Linked DNA regions of Homo sapiens: region 1 is linked to region 2. The links come from fine-mapping of genetic effects on gene expression. A gene starts in region 2. The other region holds a variant in brackets. All regions are shown on one strand. Distances are from middle to middle.

The links. PIP is the estimated chance that this variant, and not a neighbour inherited with it, causes the effect. A credible set is the group of variants that fine-mapping cannot tell apart.
Region 1: its variant is the best candidate, but not a certain one, in a credible set for the expression of BCAS3 in testis (GTEx, PIP 0.75).

The regions. Positions count from the first base shown.
Region 1 is chr17:61,240,256-61,249,796 of GRCh38, forward strand. The region is part of intron 22 of BCAS3 (BCAS3 microtubule associated cell migration factor); the gene reads left to right. Among named protein-coding and RNA genes, the nearest start is that of BCAS3-AS1, 110 kb to the left of the region's middle. RefSeq lists enhancers at 4,945-5,470, 5,471-5,996. The variant A/C (reference allele first, on the strand shown) is at 5,303.
Region 2 is chr17:60,672,818-60,682,358 of GRCh38, forward strand. It overlaps BCAS3 (BCAS3 microtubule associated cell migration factor), which reads left to right and starts at 5,034. Exons shown (of 24, transcript NM_017679.5): 1 at 5,034-5,097; 2 at 6,636-6,723. The coding sequence starts at 6,641. RefSeq lists a silencer at 4,414-5,167 and enhancers at 4,586-4,755, 4,926-5,075.

The DNA of each region.
Region 1 (9,541 bases), 570 kb after region 2:
AAAAACAGCCTAAGAGAAGATAAGTGGTAGGGACAGGCTTTGAACTCAGGTTTCTCTGATTCCAAGGTCCATATTCTTTTCACTATACCATGATATTAAAAAGGAACAAGTGGGGCCAAGCACAGTGGGTCACACCTGTAACCCCAGCACTTTGGGAGGCTAAGGCGGGTGGATCACTTGAGGCCAGGAGTTTGAGACCAGCCTGGCCAACATGGTGAAACCCCATCTCTACTAAAAATACAAAAAAAAATAGCCAGGCGTGGTGGCGCACGCCTGTAATCCCAGCTACTCTGGAGGCTGAGGCAGGAGAATCGCTTGAACTCAGGAAGCAGAGGTTGCAGTGAGCTGAGATTGTGCCACTGCACTCCAGCCTAGGCAACAGAGACTCCATCTCAATAAATAAATAATAAAAAGGAACAAGTGTAGCTGACATTTATCTGAGACTTATCAGCCTTAGCACACATACACTAAAAAGTTTAAAACAGATTTTATGTTATTCACTAGAACAGATTCATTTACCTATATCATTGAGCCCTATAACTAAAGGGTCCATTTCTTTTAAATTGATCTCAGACACACAGAAGTATATCTTAACTAAAACTTTCTTCCCGAAAAGAAGCATTTTTAAAAGGTACCAAGGGCTGTTATTCTTAGAATGATTTGATGAAATCAAAGACAAAAATAGTTTAGGCTTTTGATTAGATTTCAATATGCCACTCTTACTGGGGAGCTTTCTCTTGTTTGGGCATGACAGGATTTTTGCCATGAGAAACCTTCTAGAGCTTCCGCCCCCTCAGTTCTCACTCTCCATCACTTACCCTTCAAAAGACTCTGAATAGCAATTACAATACAGTTAAGCTTTCTTTGGGGGACCCTCATATAGTGGGCACACTGAATATGTGGATTTAATATTAGAGGCTTGACTATTTGAATGTGATTGCAAAAGTCAGTGAGGACTCTGTTATTACTACGAATTTGTAGGTTGGTATTTAGCTTAGCAAGTGATGAAGCTAGTGAGTGAGCCTGTTTACCACCAAGTACCCACGTCTTCCTTTGGCTCTGTTGTCCTCTGCTTGTTTCATCTTGTGACTTAAAACACACACACCTTAGCCAACTGTTTATGCTAATGATGAAAGAGAAGTCAAAGTAAATAAGCTTAATAAAATAATAGTTTGGGCCTGCGCAGTGGCTCACCCCTGTAATCCCAACACTTTGGGAGGCCGAGGCAGGCGGATCACGAGGTCAGGAGATCAAGACCATCCTCGCTAACACGGTGAAACCCCACCTCTACTAAAAAAAAATTACAAAAAAAAATTAGCCGGCCGTGGTGGCGGGTGCCTGTAGTCCCAGCTACTCGGGAGGATGAGGCAGGAAAATGGCGTGAACCCAGGAGCCAGAGCTTGCAGTGAGCCGAGATCGTGCCAGTGCACTCCAGCCTGGGCAACAGAGGGAGACTCCATCTCAAAAAATAATAATAAGAATAATAGTTTGGAGGTAAAATGAGTCTAAAAAATGTACTTACCTATTTTTTCTCTACTAACATCATTTAACATGTAAAATAAAATTTTGTTGAATAAATGTTAAATGTTTCTGAGAAATCTGAGAGCTTTCATAATAGTATAATATTCAGGTTTTTTCTTGTTTGTTTGTTGTTTACTAAAGAGGAATCATTTCTCAGTGTTAAGTATATCTGGGACCAGAAATGGCTCTTGTTATCCAAGGTAAAGAATCCAAACATTGGCTGGGTGTGGTGGCTCACACCTGTAATTCCAGCACTTTGGGAGGCCGAGGCGGGCAGATCACCTGAGGTTGGGAATTCGAAACCAGCCTGACCAACATGGAGAAACCCCGTCTCTACTAAAAATACAAAATTAACTGGGCGTGGTGGCGCATGCCAGTAATCCCAGCTACTCAGGAGGCTGAGGCAAGAGAATTGCTTGAACCTGGAAGGTGGAGGTTGCAGTGAGCCAGGATTGCACCATTGCACTCCATCCTGGGCAGCAAATGTGAAACTCTGTCTCAAAAAAAAAAAAAAAAAATCCAAACATCAGGAAGACAGTGTAAATATCAGGGTCTGACCTAAAGGAGACCTTGAGATGTGTGCTGGTTAGCCCTTTGACAAGTCTCACAGTACCTTAAAACACATATTTATAGTGAGGTTTGAGTAACTTGGAAGTCTATTTTAGACCAAATACACGTTTGGTTAATGTTGCTAGGCATAGAGTGTAGCCCTCCTCCCTTCATATGAGATCCTTTAGACGTGACAAGACCCGCCTGTGATGCCTAGACCCTTCTCCCATTTAGAAGGACATCACTGAATGCAAATTTGCAAAAAGCTATGGCAGAACCTGTGGTTAAAATCTCATAAGATTCAAAGAGTCTGGAATTTAAGAAGCTAAGGGAAAATATATGTCCAGAGCCTATCTTCTACCAGTCAGCCTTGTTTTTGCTTACATAAGTTTATTCTTTTTCTGAGCCAATGTTGAATTGAAGTAATAGTGATCACAGCTTATCACAGTTCTCTAAAGATTATTGCCTCCTTCACTGCCTTCATGAATTAACACCAATTTCTTCCAAATGGAATTCTTTAAAAAAAAACAAAAAAACCCAAAAAACTTTATTGAGATATGATTGACATACAAAAAGCTATACACTTTTTTTTTTTTTGAGACGGAGTCTTGCTCTGTCACCATGTCACCAGGTTGGAGTGCAATGGTGCGATCTCGGCTCACTGCAACCTCTGCCTCTTGGGTTCAAGCAATTCTCCTGCCTCAGCCTCCCAAGTAGCTGGGACTACAGGCGCGCACCACCACACCCATCTAATTTTTGTATTTTTAGTAGAGATGGGGTTTCACCATGTTGGCCAAGATGGCCTCCATCTCCTGACCTCGTGATCCGCCCGCCACGGCCTCCCAAAGTGCTGGGATTACAGGCATGAGCCACTGCGCCCTACTGCTATACACATTTAATGTCTACACTGTGATGAGTATGGAGATACGTATATACCTATCCATCACCTCCAAAAGTTACCTGCTGCTCTGGCAGAATCTCTTTCTTATTTAAAGCTGAGTAATATTCCATTGTGTCTATATACTATATTTTCTTTATCCATTCATTCATGGATGGACATTTAGTTTGCTTCTACATCTTGACTATTGTGCATAATGCTACAGTGAACGTTCCATACAGTGAAGTGGAGATACCTCTTCGAGATCCACATTTCAGTTCCTTTTGATATATACACCCAGCAGTGGGACTGCTGGGTCATATGGTGGTTTTATTTTTAATTTTTTGAGGAATGTCATAAGTGTGTCTCAAGAAAATATAAAGACAGTATAAGAAGACTTAGAATTGAGTACAGTTTGATTGAATCAAGGGTAATCACCATTATCCTGATTTTCAGGACTTTCATTCACTTCCTTCATGTAGCACAGTTCCCTGCCAGAAATATCCATCATGGACGAAGTGACTGCTAGAGACTTCAGGGAAAATAATAACTTATAACTATTTTATGTAGTTGAGGGATGAGTGTTTTGGTTCTTTCCTAAAGAGTTGGAATCTGCTCTGTCAACCAGGCTGGAGTGCGCTGGTATGACCATAGGTCTCTGCAGCCTCAAACTCCTAGGCTCAAGCAGCCCTCCCACCTGGGCCTCCCAAGTAGCTGGGAATATCAGTGTGCACTACCACAACCTGCTAATTTTTTAAGTTTTTTTTTTCAAGAGACAGAGTCTTGCTATGTTGCCCCAGCTGGTCCTGAACTCCTGGCCTCAAGTGATTCTCCCTGTCTCAGCCTCCCAAAGGGATGAGTTTTAATATGCTAATTACTTCAAGTTTTAAAAGAATAATATGTCAAATTAAAGCATTTTTAAACCTCTTTTTTTAACTCAAGTAATACATATTTATTATTTAAAAAGCTTAAGAAAAAACAGAAGAAAAAAGAAAACTAAAATCACTTGTAATTTCCTTACCTACAGTTAACAACTATTAACATTATGGTATTTATTAAGATTCTTCTATGCATTTGTATACACACATATATACGCTATTGTTTGTAAAATGAAATCACACTGAGCTTATTTACCATTAGGTAATGAGTCTTACCTGTCCAGTAATGAATGTGTTTTCCTTTGCTTTTTTACTTAGCACTATATTGTGAATATCATGAACAAAGACAGTTTGGAAACAGGGTGACTAGAAGTCAACAAAAATATGTGTTACAAAAGAATAACAATAGGTAAAATTCAGAGTATTATTTTAATTTACTGTTAAAATTACCCAAATCTCACATACTTTATTCAGTCTATATTTTTAAAAATTGGATATATAGGCCCGGCGCGGTGGCTCATGCCTGTAATCCCAGCACTTTGGGAGGCCAAAGCGGGCGGATCACGAGGTCAGGAGATCGAGACCATCCTGGCTAACACGGTGAAACTTCATCTCTACTAAAAATACAAAAAATTAGCAGGGCGTGGTGGTGGGCACCTGTAGTCCCAGTTACTTGGGAGAATGAGGCAGGAGAATGGCATGAACCCAGGAGGCAGAGCTTGCAGTGAGCCGAGATCGCGCCACTGTACCCCAGCCTGAGCAACAGAGTGAGACTCCGTCTCAAAAAAAATAAATAAATAAAAAAGGATATATAGGGAAGGAGCAATTTTTTAAAGATTTAACTGCAATTGCATAGTATTTTGTGATTTCATTATTCATCTTTCTAAATGTGGTGTAATAGACTATAATTTTAGTAAGTGTATCAGTCCATTCTCACGCTGCTGTAAGGACATAGCCGAGACTGGGTAATTTATAAAGGAAAGAGGTTTAATGGACTCACTGTTCTGCATGGCTGGGGAGGCCTCAGGAAACTTAAAATCGTGGCGGAAGGGGAAGCAAACACGTCCTTCTTCACGTGGTTGCAGAGAGAAGAATGAGTGCCCAGTGAAGGGGGAAGCCCCTTAGAAAACCATCAGATCTCGTGAGAACCAACTCACTAAAACAAGAACAGGATGGGGAAACTGCCCCCATGATTCAATTATCTCCACCTGGTCCCTCCCAGGACACATGGGGATTATGGGAACTACAAGTCAAGATGAGATTTGGGTGGAGACACAGCCAAACGATATCAGTAAGTATTTATTTTTATTTATTTTTTAGAGACAGGGTCTTGTTATGTTGCCAAGGCTGGATTCAACTCCTGGGCTCAAGTGATCCTCTCACCTCAGCCCCCCGAGAAGCTGGTACTACAGGCATGTACTACCACACTCGGCTTAATTTTAGGAAGTATTTAAGCAAATATTATTGAGCTGTATAA[A/C]ACTGTTCATTTTAAAAAGTGAAAAGTTGTTTCCAAACAATGTGTCAATTAGTTTTTCTCTTTGGTAGAAAAATTGTATATGTTCAAATCAAAGTTGTAGAAGTACCTCCCTGCCTAACATTCAAGTGGTTTCAGATGGTAGGCTTTAACATAACAAGATGAGCTATTGGGCTCTCAGAAAAAGCAGTTCCTAAGGGAGCACCTACATTTAGTACTTCTTTTTCATGTTAATGAAGTTCTGTCTCATTGAAAGAAAAAAAAAGAGATTGTTGTTGAGTGGAGGTACCTACTGCCTAGTGCAAGGTCAGGAAGGCTGTGGAGCTGATGGGCAGCTCTTCAGAATCCAGGGGTCCATTATTGGTGCACTCAGCGTGAGGCTGAAGCTGGAAGGTCACCTCCCCTAACGTGAATAAAACTGAAGCTGTGAGAGCTCAGGTGATCCACCCAGGGTTCCACAGTGATTGGGAGGGCTGAGACTTTAGAATTCTGCCTTCTAACACCCAGATTTGGCCTACCTCACACACTGACAGGAATTCTCTTCTATCCTGGGAGAGTCTTACAACTATCACGACCTCATAACTGATCTAAGATGGCTTTCTGGAGATGGTCAAGTCAGGAATAGCTTTTAAATAGGTTGCTATGGCCGGGTACAGTGGCTCACGCTTGTAATCCCAGCACTTTGGGAGGCTGAGGCAGGCAGATGGCTTGAGTCCAGGAGTTCAAGACCAGCCTGGGCAACATGACGAAACCCCATCTCTACAAAAAATACAAAAATTAGCCAGTCATGGTGGCATGTGCCTGTAGTCCCAGCTATTGAGGAGGCTGAGGCGAGAGGACCACAGAAGCAGAGGTTGCTAAGACTCGAGATGGTGCCACTGCACACCAGCCTGGGTAACAGAGCAAGACTGTCTCAGAAAAAAAAAAAAAAAAAAAAAAAAAAGATTTATGTTGTTTCCCCCAGTCCCCTAGGTCTCTCCTTTTACTTCCGCAACCAACCAGAAGTCAATGTAGGAGCCTTGGTGTTAGGTGTAGGCTAGGGGTGGCACCTGACACGGCATCACTGGAGCCTGTGTACTGGAATTAGACCAGTTGCTACAAGTTAGCTCTGTTGGTTGTCAAGAGAATTTCCTTTTCTTTATTAAAATGCAAGTCATGCTTTTGTTTTAATACAATATCAACCATTCAGCCTTGACATGATTTAAAATGAATATGGGTAGTTTTGCCTTTGAGTGAGAGTGTGTGTGTGTGTGTGTGTGTGTGTGTGTGTGTGTGTATGTGTGTGATAACCTAATTGACAAAGCAATCATGATGTTTTCCATGAGCCTGATGTTATCCCATCATTCGGAGACCCATTTTGTTTAATTTGTTTTTTCATATAGTTTCTGGTGGGAAAAATGCATTGCTTTAGTACCGAAATTAACTTGATTGAAATGTCTTAGACTTTATCATTTTCCAGTGGCTCAAAGGGTTATTTCCCAAGTGTTTAATTTTTTAAGTACAGTGTATATTAATTTCACTGCTACTTTCTGACATTCATCATTCCATGAGAAATTATCACAGATGAATACATCAGACTTTTATTTACACTCCAATTCCTACTCAATGTAAAGTTATTTAACTTTGACGATAGCATGCAAATTTGATAAAGATGAGGTTTTTAAAAACCTGAACCATTTATTGATTTGCTAAGTATAATTTTCACATTTTTCTTATAGTATTCTATAATACATCTTTCAGAAGGAAAACACTTGAAAACTAGTATAATCTTCAGGAACCGTTCAATCAGAAATAATGAGTGGAGAGGTCACTTATCAAAAATATATTGTTTAAAATACTTATATTTAAGTATTTCTAGTCTTTGAGGTAAAAAGTTCTGCCACAAAAAGTATGGATTCATTGGGCTTCTGAATTCTGTACATGTCACGATTTTTGCTCTTGGGCTAAAGATAGAAAGTAAAATAAAATGTTCTTTGTCCATTTAGTTATCCTTGACTCCATGAAATTCTCCAAAGTAATTACTGGTGACCACAATACCACCTACCAGCAAGAGCAGCATTGACCATGTGCCAAGTCCCTTATTGCCGACCACAGCTGCTCTTGACTACAGCAGATGTTTCTTCTTTTGACTTGGCAGTAAAATTTTATTAAGCAGTTTTGCAAGTAGAGAGCAGCATACTCTACCTGATGAGTGGCTGGAGATCTTAGCCCTTTTGTGCAATCAGCTTAGTTTTCTCCTATCTACCATCAGGCCCCCGCCTCTAGGTTCCTTGGATCTCACCAACCAGGCCTCAGGCCTTGTAAACTGCAGTCCTCTTGGGTTTGCTTCCCTACCCACCCATGTAATTTTCCCAAAGAAAATAATGTTAGAAGAGCAGCCGCACTTGTGGTTACAACTTGCGGCATTGAAAGGCTGTCACATTGGAACTTTGTTCCTACCAGTTGTGGGTTTACAAAAAGGAGTTGGGGTACTTTGTTGGGATGTTTTGTTAGGATGCTTTTCTGAATTTTTCCACATCTCTTTGGTTTGGATGTTGACTTGGAAATCTCTTTTGAATTAGCTTCTTTTGGAGAGCTTTCTGCTTTTCTGAGCACTTCTTGGATCCTTTCCCCAACAAAGCCACCAAGGGAACTTCTTCTGATCCTATCTCTTTTGTAGGTGGTACCCTATTTGAGTCCTTCTGAAGACTGGAGCACATAAAGGCCTGATTTTTTCTTCTGAGTTGGATTGGATGGTTTAACATAATTTGTCTCTATGTTTTCTGTCTTGGGTAAAGGAATATATTTGTGAATTGTGGCTGATACTACTTTAAAAAATTCCAAAAAGAAAATCTAAAGGACCATTCCTATGATTATTGCAACCCATTTCTCAGGTCTTTCAAAGAAAACAACTCGTAAAGATACTGGCAGTTGAAGGTCTAAGTCCCAGCCTGGCATGAATTCCCAGAGAGCCTTGGGCCTTGGGAGGAGGGGTAATATACAAGATTAGAGTGCAAAGTCCATCTGGTGAGAATTTGTCTGGTTTGTGCTTCCTCAGCAGGGAGGAAGTAGCAGTGACCTCAGTCCTGAATGGTTATTTCAGAAGTGTATCATGGTGGGAATTTAGCCAGCTTTGTGGCAGATGACCAACCCTGATAGCCTGATTTTTAAGGCCCCTAACACAAATGATACCAGGACTTCTTTGAATATTCTATTTAGTCTGTACTAGGACACATAGGACAAGATGAGCGACTATTTTAGACCTGTAGGTCAAGAGGTTTGAAGCAGTATATTCACCTTTTACACTTCAAACCACTTGGAGTATCTTAAAGAAGTAGTATACTGTCAAATACTTATAAAACTTCCTTCTTCTTTGCTCTTAAAGATAAGACGTTGTTTAGATGAATATATATTCTTTTCCTGTGTATTCTACTATTCCTGCAAAAATTTGTTTTTAAAATAAGAAACTTGGCTGGGCTTGGTGGCTCACGCCTGTAATCCCAGAACTTTGGGAGGCCGAGGCAGGTAGATCCCCTGAGGTGAGGAGTTTGAGACCAGCCTGGCCAACATGGTGAAACCCCATCTCTACTAAAAATACAAAAAATTAGCCGGGAATGGTGGCGGGTGCCTGTAATCCCAGCTACTCGGGAGGCTGAGGCAGGAGAATCACTTGAACCCAGGAGGCAGAGGCTGCAGTGAGCCGAGATCACACCACTGCACTCCAGCCTGGGCAACAAGAGTGAAACTCCATCTCAAAAATAAATAAATAAAATAAAATAGAAACTTGAAAATAATACCAGCACTGCTAGAGTGGGTATTTGGCTCAGTTCAGGCCTGTGCCTTTTTTTGATGTTCCCAGAGCAGAGCACTCCTTAAACTAGGATGAGAAAAGTTAATTTTAATCCTCCAAAGGCTTATTTGCTAGCACAAAAGGTCATGAAACACACCCAAAACTATATTGCTAAAATCTGAAGGAGAGAGATCTCAACAGCAGAGATGGACTCTAGTGTCCCAACATAGAATTGTGTCTCTGGCTGAAGAAATAGTTTGTTTTAGGAACGCCAATACAAAAGCTACAGAATGGAAGAGTTTTCCCTTAACTGATCTAAGGGAAAATTCTTTTTCTCGTGTTGTTTTAGGAAGCTCAGAATTATTTAGAAATACTTGTGAAATCATGGTCACAGGAGTTATTTCCAAGGATGTTTAAGTAGCTGCTCTCTGCCCATTATTTTGATAATTACTACACCTTAATCTGTTATCTGT
Region 2 (9,541 bases):
TCTCTACTAAAAATACAAAACATTAGCTGGATGTGGTAGTGGGCGCCTGTAATCCCAGCTACTCGGGAGGCTGACGCAGAAGAATTGCTTGAACCCGGGACACGGAGGTTGCAGTGAACCGAGATTGCACCACTGCACTCCAGCTCAGACGACAGTGCAAAGACTGTCTAAATTAAAAAAAAAAAAAAAGAAAGAGAAAAAAAGAAAAAGAAAATAAAAAATACAAAAATTACCAGGAGTGGTGGTGCAGGTCTGCCGTCCCAGCTACTCAGGAGGCTGAGGTGGGAGGATCACTTGAGTCTGGGAAGTCAAGGTAGCAGTGAGCTATGATTGTGTCACTGCACTCCAGCCTGGGAGACAGACTGACACTCTGTCTCAAAAAAAAAAAAAAAAAAAAGAAAGAAAGAAAAAATGGCCAGGCGCAGTGGTGGCTCACGTCTGTAATCCCAGCACTTTGGGAGGCCGAGTCAGGCAGATCACGAGATGAGGAGTTCCAGACCAGCCTGGCCAATATGGTGAAACCAGACCAGCCTGGCCAATATGGTGAAACCCCGTCTCTACTAAAAATACAAAAATTAGCCAGGCATGGTGGTGCACACCTGTAGTCCCAGCTACTCAGGAGGCTGAGGCAAAAAGAACTGCTTTAACTCGGGAGGTGGAGGTTGCAGTGAGCCCACATCGTGCCACTGCACTCCAGCTTAGGTGACAGAGTGAGACTCTGTCTCAAAAGAAAAAAAAAAAAGAAAAAAAAACTTATTTAGTCATAAAAAGCCTATGGGGTCGGGTGCAGTGGTTCACACCTGTAATCCCAGCACTTTGGGAGGCTGAGATGGGAGAATCACTTGAGCTCCGGAGTTCAAGATCAGCCTGGGCAACATAGGGAGGCCCTGTCTCTACAGAAAAAAATTTTTTAATTAGCCAGCATGTTGGTGTGTGCCTGTAAACCCAGCTACTTAGGAGGCTGAGGTGGGAGGATCACATGAGCCGAGGAGTTGGAGGTTGCAGTGAGCTATGATTGCACTACTGCACACCAGCCTGGGTAACAGCAAAACTGCCCCCCTCTGACGCCCCTGCTAAAAAGAAAGCCTATGAGGCTCATAATATTCTTTTTTTTTTGGAGACGGAGTCTTGCTCTGTTGCCCAGGCTGGAGTGCAGTGGCGCGATCTCGGCTCACTGCAAGCTCTGCCTCCCAGGTTCTCGCCATTCTCTGCCTCAGCCTACCGAGTAGCTGGGACTACAAGCGCCAGCCACCACGCCTGGCTAATTTTTTGTATTTTTAGTAGAGATGGAGTTTCACCATTAGGATGGTTTCGATCTCCTGACCTCATGATCCGCCCTCCTCGGCCTCCCAACGTGTTGGGATTACAGGCCTGAGCCACCGCGCCCCGCCCATATTATTCCTTCTACAATTTACAAAGGATGAAACAATGAAGGCACAGAAATTTACCAAGAAATGTAAAACTCAGCTAGTGTTCATCCTATTTGTAAATGGCACCACTCAGCTGATCAAGCCCAAAACACAGAAAACATCTTTTTTTTTTTTCCTCTAACACCTTTAAGGTTTCTTGGATTTGAACATCCTTGATTCTTTCCCTTTGGGTCCGGAGTTGGTTCCTTCCGGTGGATTCGTGGTCTGACTTCAAGAACGAAGCCGAGGACCTTCTCGTTGAGTGTTATAGCTCTTAAAGGTGGCATGGACCCAAAGAATGAGCAGCAGCAAGATTTATTGTAAAGAAGGAAACAACAAAGCTTTTAGCTTTCCACAGAGTGGAAGGGGCCTGGAGCAGGTTGCCGCTGCTGGGGGGAGTGGCCAGCTTTTATTCCCTTATTGTCCCCGCCCATGTTCCGTTTCTGTCCTAGCACAGTGCCCTTTCTTCAATCTTCCCCACGATTGGCTTTTAGACTCCTGCTGATTGGTACGTTTTACAGAGCACTGATTGGTGCATTTTACAGAGCACTGATTGGTGCATTTTACAGAGTGCTGATTGGTGCATTTTACAATCCTCTTGCTAGCTACAGAGCGTTGATTGGTGCGTTTTTACAGATCACTGAATGGTGCATTTTACAATCCCCTTGCTAGCTACAGAGTGCTGATTGGTGCACCTTACAATCCCCTTGCTAGCTACAGAGTGCTGATTGGTGCGTTTTCCAATCCTAGCTACAGAGTGCTGACTGGTGTGTTTTACAATCCTCTCCTAAGACAGAAAAGTTCTCCAAGTCCCCACTCTACCCAGGAAGTCCAGCTGGCTTCACCTCTCACCTTCATCCTGTAACCGAGTCCTAACTTGTTCTGCTCACTGCATGACAGCCAAGGGGTGAAGAGTCAAGGAGTTAGAGCAAGGATAGTAACTTTATTTCTGAGAGCTAGCAAACCCGGAAAATTGCAGAATAATGTACTAAAGAACCATCTTTTTGGCTGGGCATGGTGGCTCACGCCTGTAATTCCAGCACTTTGGGAGGCCAGGGCGGGTGGAACATGAAGTCAGGAGTTCAAGACCAGCCTGGCCAAAATGGTGAAACCCCGTCACTACTAAAAATGCAAAGAATTAGCCAGGAGTGGTGGCGGGTGCCTGTAATCCCAGCTACTCAGGATGCCGAGGCAGAAGAATCGCTTTAACCCGCGAGGTGGACGTTGCAGTGAGCCAAGATTGAGACACTGCACTCCAGCCTGGTGACACAGTGAGACTCCATCTCAAAAAAAAAAAAAAGTTGGAGTCTTGCTCTGTCGCCCAGGCTGGAGTGCAGTGCCTTGATCTTGGCTCACTGCAACCTCCACCTCCCGGGTTTAAGTGATTCTCCTGTCCCAGCCTCCCGAGTAGCTGGGACTACAGGCGCACACCACCACGTCCAGCTAATTTTTGTATTTTTAGTAGAGACGGGGTTTCTCCATGTTGGTCAGTCTGGTCTTGAACTCCTGATCTCAGGTGATCCACCTATTTCGGCCTCCCAAAGTGCTGGGATGAGAGGTGTGAGCCATCACACCCAGCCTGAAGAACCATCTTAAGTTAGTACACATTTCAGGCTCTTTTTGTGTTAAGGGCAGGGGGAAGAAGAGAGGGTTTGAATCAAGGGGTGACTGATGACCGTAGACATCTGGGCGCCAGCAAGGGTTCCTCGAGGCCTGAAGCCTCTCTGTTACTGGTCAGGTCACAATACTTTCTCAAACTCTCAACATTGTTACTTGTGTGTACACCCTCCTTTTCTCCTTGGGGGTTAGTTTTGGGAAGGGACTATTATCATCCTTGCTTTAAAGTTAAACTATAAATTCCTCCCTTGGTTAGCTTAGTCTATGTGCAGAGATAAGCAAAAGCAGTTAACTTAGATATCACCGATGGGTGGGAGTGGGGAGTTTAGGAGCAAAATGGAGTTAGTCATGCTAGGCCTCCTTTTCAATGTTACAATTCCACATTATCAAGTTATTTCAATCCCACATTATCAAGTTATTTCAATATTTCCAAATATATTCTTCTTCTTCTTCTTCTTCTTTTTTTTTTTTTGAGCGAGAGTTTTGCTCTGTCGCCCAGAGGCTGGAGTGCAGTTGCACGATCTCGGCTCACTGCAACCTTCACATCTCGGATTCAAGCGATTCTCCTGCCTCAGCCTCCTGAGTAGTTGGGATTACAGGCGTGCACCATCAAAACCCGCTGATTTTTGTATTTTTAGTAGAGACAGAGTTTCACAAAGTTGGCAAGGCTGGTCTTGACCTCCTGACCTCAAGTGATCTGCCCCTCTCAGCCTCCCAAAGTGCTGGGATTACAGGTGTGAGCCACCGTGCCCGGCCTTTTCTTTCATTTCTTTTTTTAAAATTTTTTAAAATTTTATGTATGTATGTATGTATGTATGTATGTATGTATGTATGTATGTATCTATCTATCTATCTATCTATCTATCTATCTATCTATCTATCTGTCTTGAGAGGGACTCTCTGTCACCCAGGCTAAAGTGCTGGAGGGCAATGGCGTGATCTATAGGCTCACTGCAATCTCCGCCTCCTGGGTTCAAGCAATTCTTCCGCCTCAGCCTCCCCAGTAGCTAGGATTACAGGCATTGGCCACCACACCTGGCTATTTTTAGTAGAGACGGGGTTTCTTCATGTTGTCCAGGCTGTTCTAGAACTCCTGGCCTCAAGCGATCTTCCCGCCTAGGCTTCCCAAAATGTTGGGATTGCAGGCGTGAGCCACCACGCCCAGCCCACCACGCCTGTTAATAAGCTATACCCTCACGGACCTGTCATTGGCATTAAATTTGATAATACATTAGAGTATTGTATATGAAGTATACGAAGGCCTGTGCTGAGTGTTCAAGAAGTCAGTCAGTATTATTCTACTTATATTAATAAATGAACTGATGAAATGACAATGGCGAGATCTCGATCTTCAACAATAAGGGAGATGGAAACTGAAGCAAGAAGTGGTCTACAAACCTAGCTCAAATTGTTGAGATTACCGGCCGTGCCCCTTATTCAGATCAACCCCTCCTCGGCTGATCGCCGGCGCGAGCCAGCCTAGGCTCCCGGAAGGTAAACACATCGCCAAGGGCTGGGCAGAAGGCGGGTGTGGGACGGGTGAGTGGCCAGCTAAAAGTGATTGGCAGCTGCCATGTCCACGTGCTCCGAGCTTGGAACCAGCTGTCGCGAGAATTCGATGTAAACAGACCAGTCTCCCTGTCCTCCGGCTCCAACCTGAAACGCTCACGTGAGCGGGACAGGAGTCTGGATCATGTTGCTTTTCTTTTCAAAGCCACGAAGGTTCTGTCTTCCAAAAAAAATGTACATGTTCGTAATTATTCCCCAGCTGCCTGCGTTTGCAACCGAACCTGACACCTCGGCTTCACCCGAACTTACATGCTGTTGTGTTTTCCCTCCAGCCCCAGCGGATTGGACACATTCAGAAGGCGGGTCCGCCTCTTTCCTACTTGCTGGTTGGCGAAGCTGACCTCCAAGGGCGGTGCCCGGCCATAGCCGGTTTGCTTCTGGGATTGGCTAGAGGGGGTGGTTCCGCTGAGGCGTGGTAGGAAGTGGCTGCCGTCAATCACTCGGGGAGACTCCAAACAGTGAGCCTAGAGCTGGAGACTAGCGTTAACCGGCGGGGCGGCCGGTGAGAGGGCTGGCAGGGCTTTGGCTTTGGGGAGGCTTGGGGAGGACGAGGGACTGGCGGCGTGAGGGGACTGGGTCGGGCTGGCAGGAATTCGACAGGAGAGAGGTGTCGATACTGGAGGGGGAGGGGAACAGTGCAAGGGGCCGGAGGGCGGCCGGGGGCAGCGGTGGCTCCGTGTTGGAGGTTAAGTGGGCAGCGCCGTACGAGTGTCTTTCAGGAGACTGGGGCCTGAGTGGCTGGCGAGGGTCGTCCCCAGGAGACAGGGCCCTTAAAGGGCAGGGCTTGGGAGACTGTGGTTCGAGAAAGCAAGAATGGGATGAGAATGAGAGGGCTGAGGGGCTGGAGGTGCAGGTATCCTCTGAGGAGGTGGTGGCTCTGCTCCTTGGGGCAGAGGGTGTTTTGGTTGTAGGAGGTGGGGCGCACAGGTTTAGAGTTTTCACATCAGGTGTGAATGCTCCCTACTTAAAAATGGTTTTCGGTGCCTTCAAGATGAGTTCCAGGTTGTGGGCTTCCCTGAGCCCTGTAAGAGATCTTTGATATTGCTGTCAGTCCTCTTTTAACCTTAACCAAGCCGACTCCATGCTCTTAAAATCTCAGTGATTCAGAGGGTCATGAAACATTCTAGGATCAGGATTTACTGATGTGACGGGAAAGGGTAAAGGGCTGTAACAACGTATTAGTTTATGTTAGTTATTTGACTACTTGCTACTAGTCAAATAATTACTTGACTTATTTGTTATAGTAGCAGGGGGTTACGAATGTGATTTAAATTGTGATTTACTCATAGATTCCCAACAGGTTTAATTGGAAGGTAGAGTGATATCATGTCACTTGTTCCGTTTGGTCTTGAAATATTGTACCATGTGTATTTTCACTATCTCAACATAAAATTGCAGTAAATTCCCATCCCATGATCTGGTTCTCTCACCCTTGTAATTTATGTTAACAACAGACCAAGGGGTACAGCAGGAGTCTTCCTTACATTGTTTTGTGGTTCTGAGACCTGGTCCTATTAAAAAACAAAACAGGATGGGCGCGGTGGCTCAAGCCTATAATCCCAGCACTTTGGGAGGCTAAGGCGGATGGATTGCTTGAGCTCAGGAGTTCGAGACCAGCCTTGGCAACATGGTGAAACCCCGTCGCTACAAAAAAATATAAAATTTAGCTCGGCATGGTGGCGCTCGCCTGTAATCCCAGCTACTCAGGAGGCTGAGGCAGGAGAATTGCTTGAGCCTGGGAGGCGGAGATTGCCATGAGCAGAGATCGTGCCACTGAACTCCAGCCTGGGCGACAGAGCGAGACTCTATCTCAAAAATAATAATAACCCCCCAAACCCCTCATTATAATTTGAAAAAAATTAAAAACCTACTTCCTCCTTTTTTCCCTTTCTGGTGTAACAGGAATTTCTGGGAAAGTTTCCTACATTTGAGGCATTTTTGACAAGGGATCTCTAGTGAGTAATCATAAATCTTCCTCCCTACCCCCAACAACGATCCATGTTTTTCTGTTTTTTGTTTGTTTGTTTGTTCTGGAAACAGGTTTTATGAATGAAGCTATGGCTACAGATTCCCCAAGAAGACCCAGTCGTTGTACTGGTGGAGTTGTGGTTCGCCCCCAGGCTGTCACGTAAGCACATTTCAGATAAACCCAATAGCTGAAGAAAAGATTACTCAGAATACTAACATTTAGGTTTTCTTTATGAACAGTGGTTACTTTTGTAAAAATCTTTTAACTGTTGGCTTTATGGGATGAATAATAATAATTGCCAAGACCAAATGAAGAATTGGAGAGTTAAGTTGACGTATTCAGCACATTTACAGAGTACGTGAAGAGCACTATGCTAAATCCTGAAGAGCAGTGTTTTCAAACTCCAGGTTTAACAAATTAGTGGATTGTTAAATCAGTTTAGTGGGTCAGGAGTTGTAGTAGAAAATGAAATAGAGGCCGGGCGCAGTGGCTCATGCCTGTAATCCCAGCACTTTGGGAGGCCCAGGCAGGCGGATCACGAGATCAGGAGATCGAGACCATCCTGGCTAAAACGGTGAAACCCTGTCTCTACTAAAAATACAAAAAATTAGCCGGGTATGGTGGCCCCTGTAGTCCCAGCTACTCGGGAGGCTGAGTCAGGAGAATGACGTGAACCTGGGAGGTGGAACTTGCAGTGAGCTGAGATCGCGCCACTGCACCCTAGCCTGGGCGACACAGCAAGACTCTGTCTCCAAAAAAAAAAAAAAAAAGAAAGAAAATGAAATAGAATATAATAGAAAATTAGAAAATATAGCTGAGAGTTTGTATTGTTTCATGACATGCACATAAATATGTTCATGTGTATGTATATATTTACCAGACAGTGATGTAAAATGTATCTCTTTTAACTTTTAAGTTCAAGGGTACATGTGCAGGTTTGTTATATAGGGAAACTCATGTCACAGGGGTTTGTTGTACAGATTATTTCATCACCCAGGTATTAAGCATAGTCCCCATTAGTTATTTTTCCTGACCCTCTCCCCGCTCCCACCCAACTCTGATAGGCACCAGTGTGTGGTGTTCCCGTCTATGTATCCATGTGTTATCTATAAAAGGAATCTCTTAGTCTAGGTCTCTGTCAGAAAGTTTCAAAGTAAGTGTCATAGTATATGTCTCTGTTTTTGGCATTCTTTGACAAAGAATGTCTATACTTACTAGAGTGAGTTTATAATCTAATATGGTTTGAAGATATGTATACTTTTTTTTTTTTTTTAGATGGAGTCTCACTCTGTTGCCCAGGTTGGAGTGCAGTGGCGCCGTCTCGGCTCGCTGCAGCCTCCACCTCCTCCTCTGTCTCCCAGATTCAAGCGATTCTCCTGCCTTGGCCTCCCAAGTAGCTGGGATTACAGGCGAGCGCCACCAGGCCTGGCCAAATTTTGTATTTTTAGCAAAGACGGGGTTTTGCCATTTGGCCAGGCTGGTCTTGAACTCCTGACCTCAGGTGATCTGCCTGTCTTGGCCTCCCAAAGTGCTAGAATTACATGTGTGAGCCACTGTGCCTGGCCAAAGATATGTATACTTGAAGGCTGACATGGGAGGATTGCTTGAAACCAGGAGTTTGACACCAGCCTGAACAACATCCTGAGACCCTCATGCCTTAAAAAAATACAAAAATTAGCCAGGCATTGTGGCAGGCGCCTGGAGCCTTAGCTACTCGGGAGGCTGAGATGGGAGGATCACCTCGGCCCAGGAGCTTGAAGCTGTGGTAAGCTGTGATTGTGCCATTACACTCCAGCCTAGGTGACAGAGTGAGACTGTGTCTTAAAAAAAATATATGTCTGGGCGCAGTGGCTCATGCCTGTAATCCCAGCATTTTGGGAGGCTGAGGTGGGCGGATCACCTGAGGTTGGGAGTTTGAGACCAGCCTGACCAATGTGGAGAAAACCCGTCTCTACTAAAAATACAAAACTTAGCTGGGGGTGGTGGCAATAGCCTGTAATCCCAGCTACTTGGGAGGCTGAGGCAGGAGAATCGCTTGAACCCGGGAGGCGGAGGTTGCAGTGAGCTGAGATCGCACCACTGCACTCCAGCCTGGGGGACAAGAGCAAGACTTCATTTCCAAAAAATAAGAAAAATAAATAGATATATTTTATATGTATATATATTATTCTTTTTTTTTTCTTTTTTTGAGATGCAGTCTCGCTCCATTGCCCAGGCTGGAGTGCAGTGGCATGATCTCGGCTCACTGCAACCTCCGCCTTCTGGGTTCAAATGATTCTCTTGCCTCAGCCTCCCAAGTAGCTGGGATTACAAATGTGGATCACCACGCCTGGCTAATTTTTGTATACATATATATATATTTTTTGAGACGGAGTTTCGCTCTTTTTGCCCAGGCTGGAGTGCGATGGCACGATCTCGGCTCACCGCAACCTCCGCCTCCTGGGTTCAAGCGATTCTCCTGCCTCAGCCTCCCGATTAGCTGGGATTACAGGCATGCGCCACCATGCCTGGCTAATTTTGTATTTTTTAGTAGAGACAGGGTTTCTCCATGTTGTCCAGGTTGGTCTCAAACTCCCAACCTCAGGTGGTCCGCCTGCCTCAGCCTCCCAAAGTGCTGGGATTACAGGTGTGAGCCACCGCGCCCGGCCTAATTTTTGTATTTTTGGTAGAGATGGGGTTTCATCAAATTGGCTAGGCTGAAGCAAACAAGTGAATAAGTAAAATAATGACAGGCTGTGATTGTGCACCGTGTACTACAATGGAGAGTGACAAAGGAGAATACATATAAGGCTGTCCCGGAAGCTCTCTCAAAGGAGGCAGCACTTAACCCGGAGAACTAAAAGGAAGGGAAGGGGATGGGAAGGAATCCAGATAGAAAGAAAGGTGGTATAAAGGTCTTGATTCAAAGAAGAACTTGGTGTGTGCTAGGAATTGAAGTTGCATATGGCTGAATCAGAATAAGGAGAGTGGCAAAAAA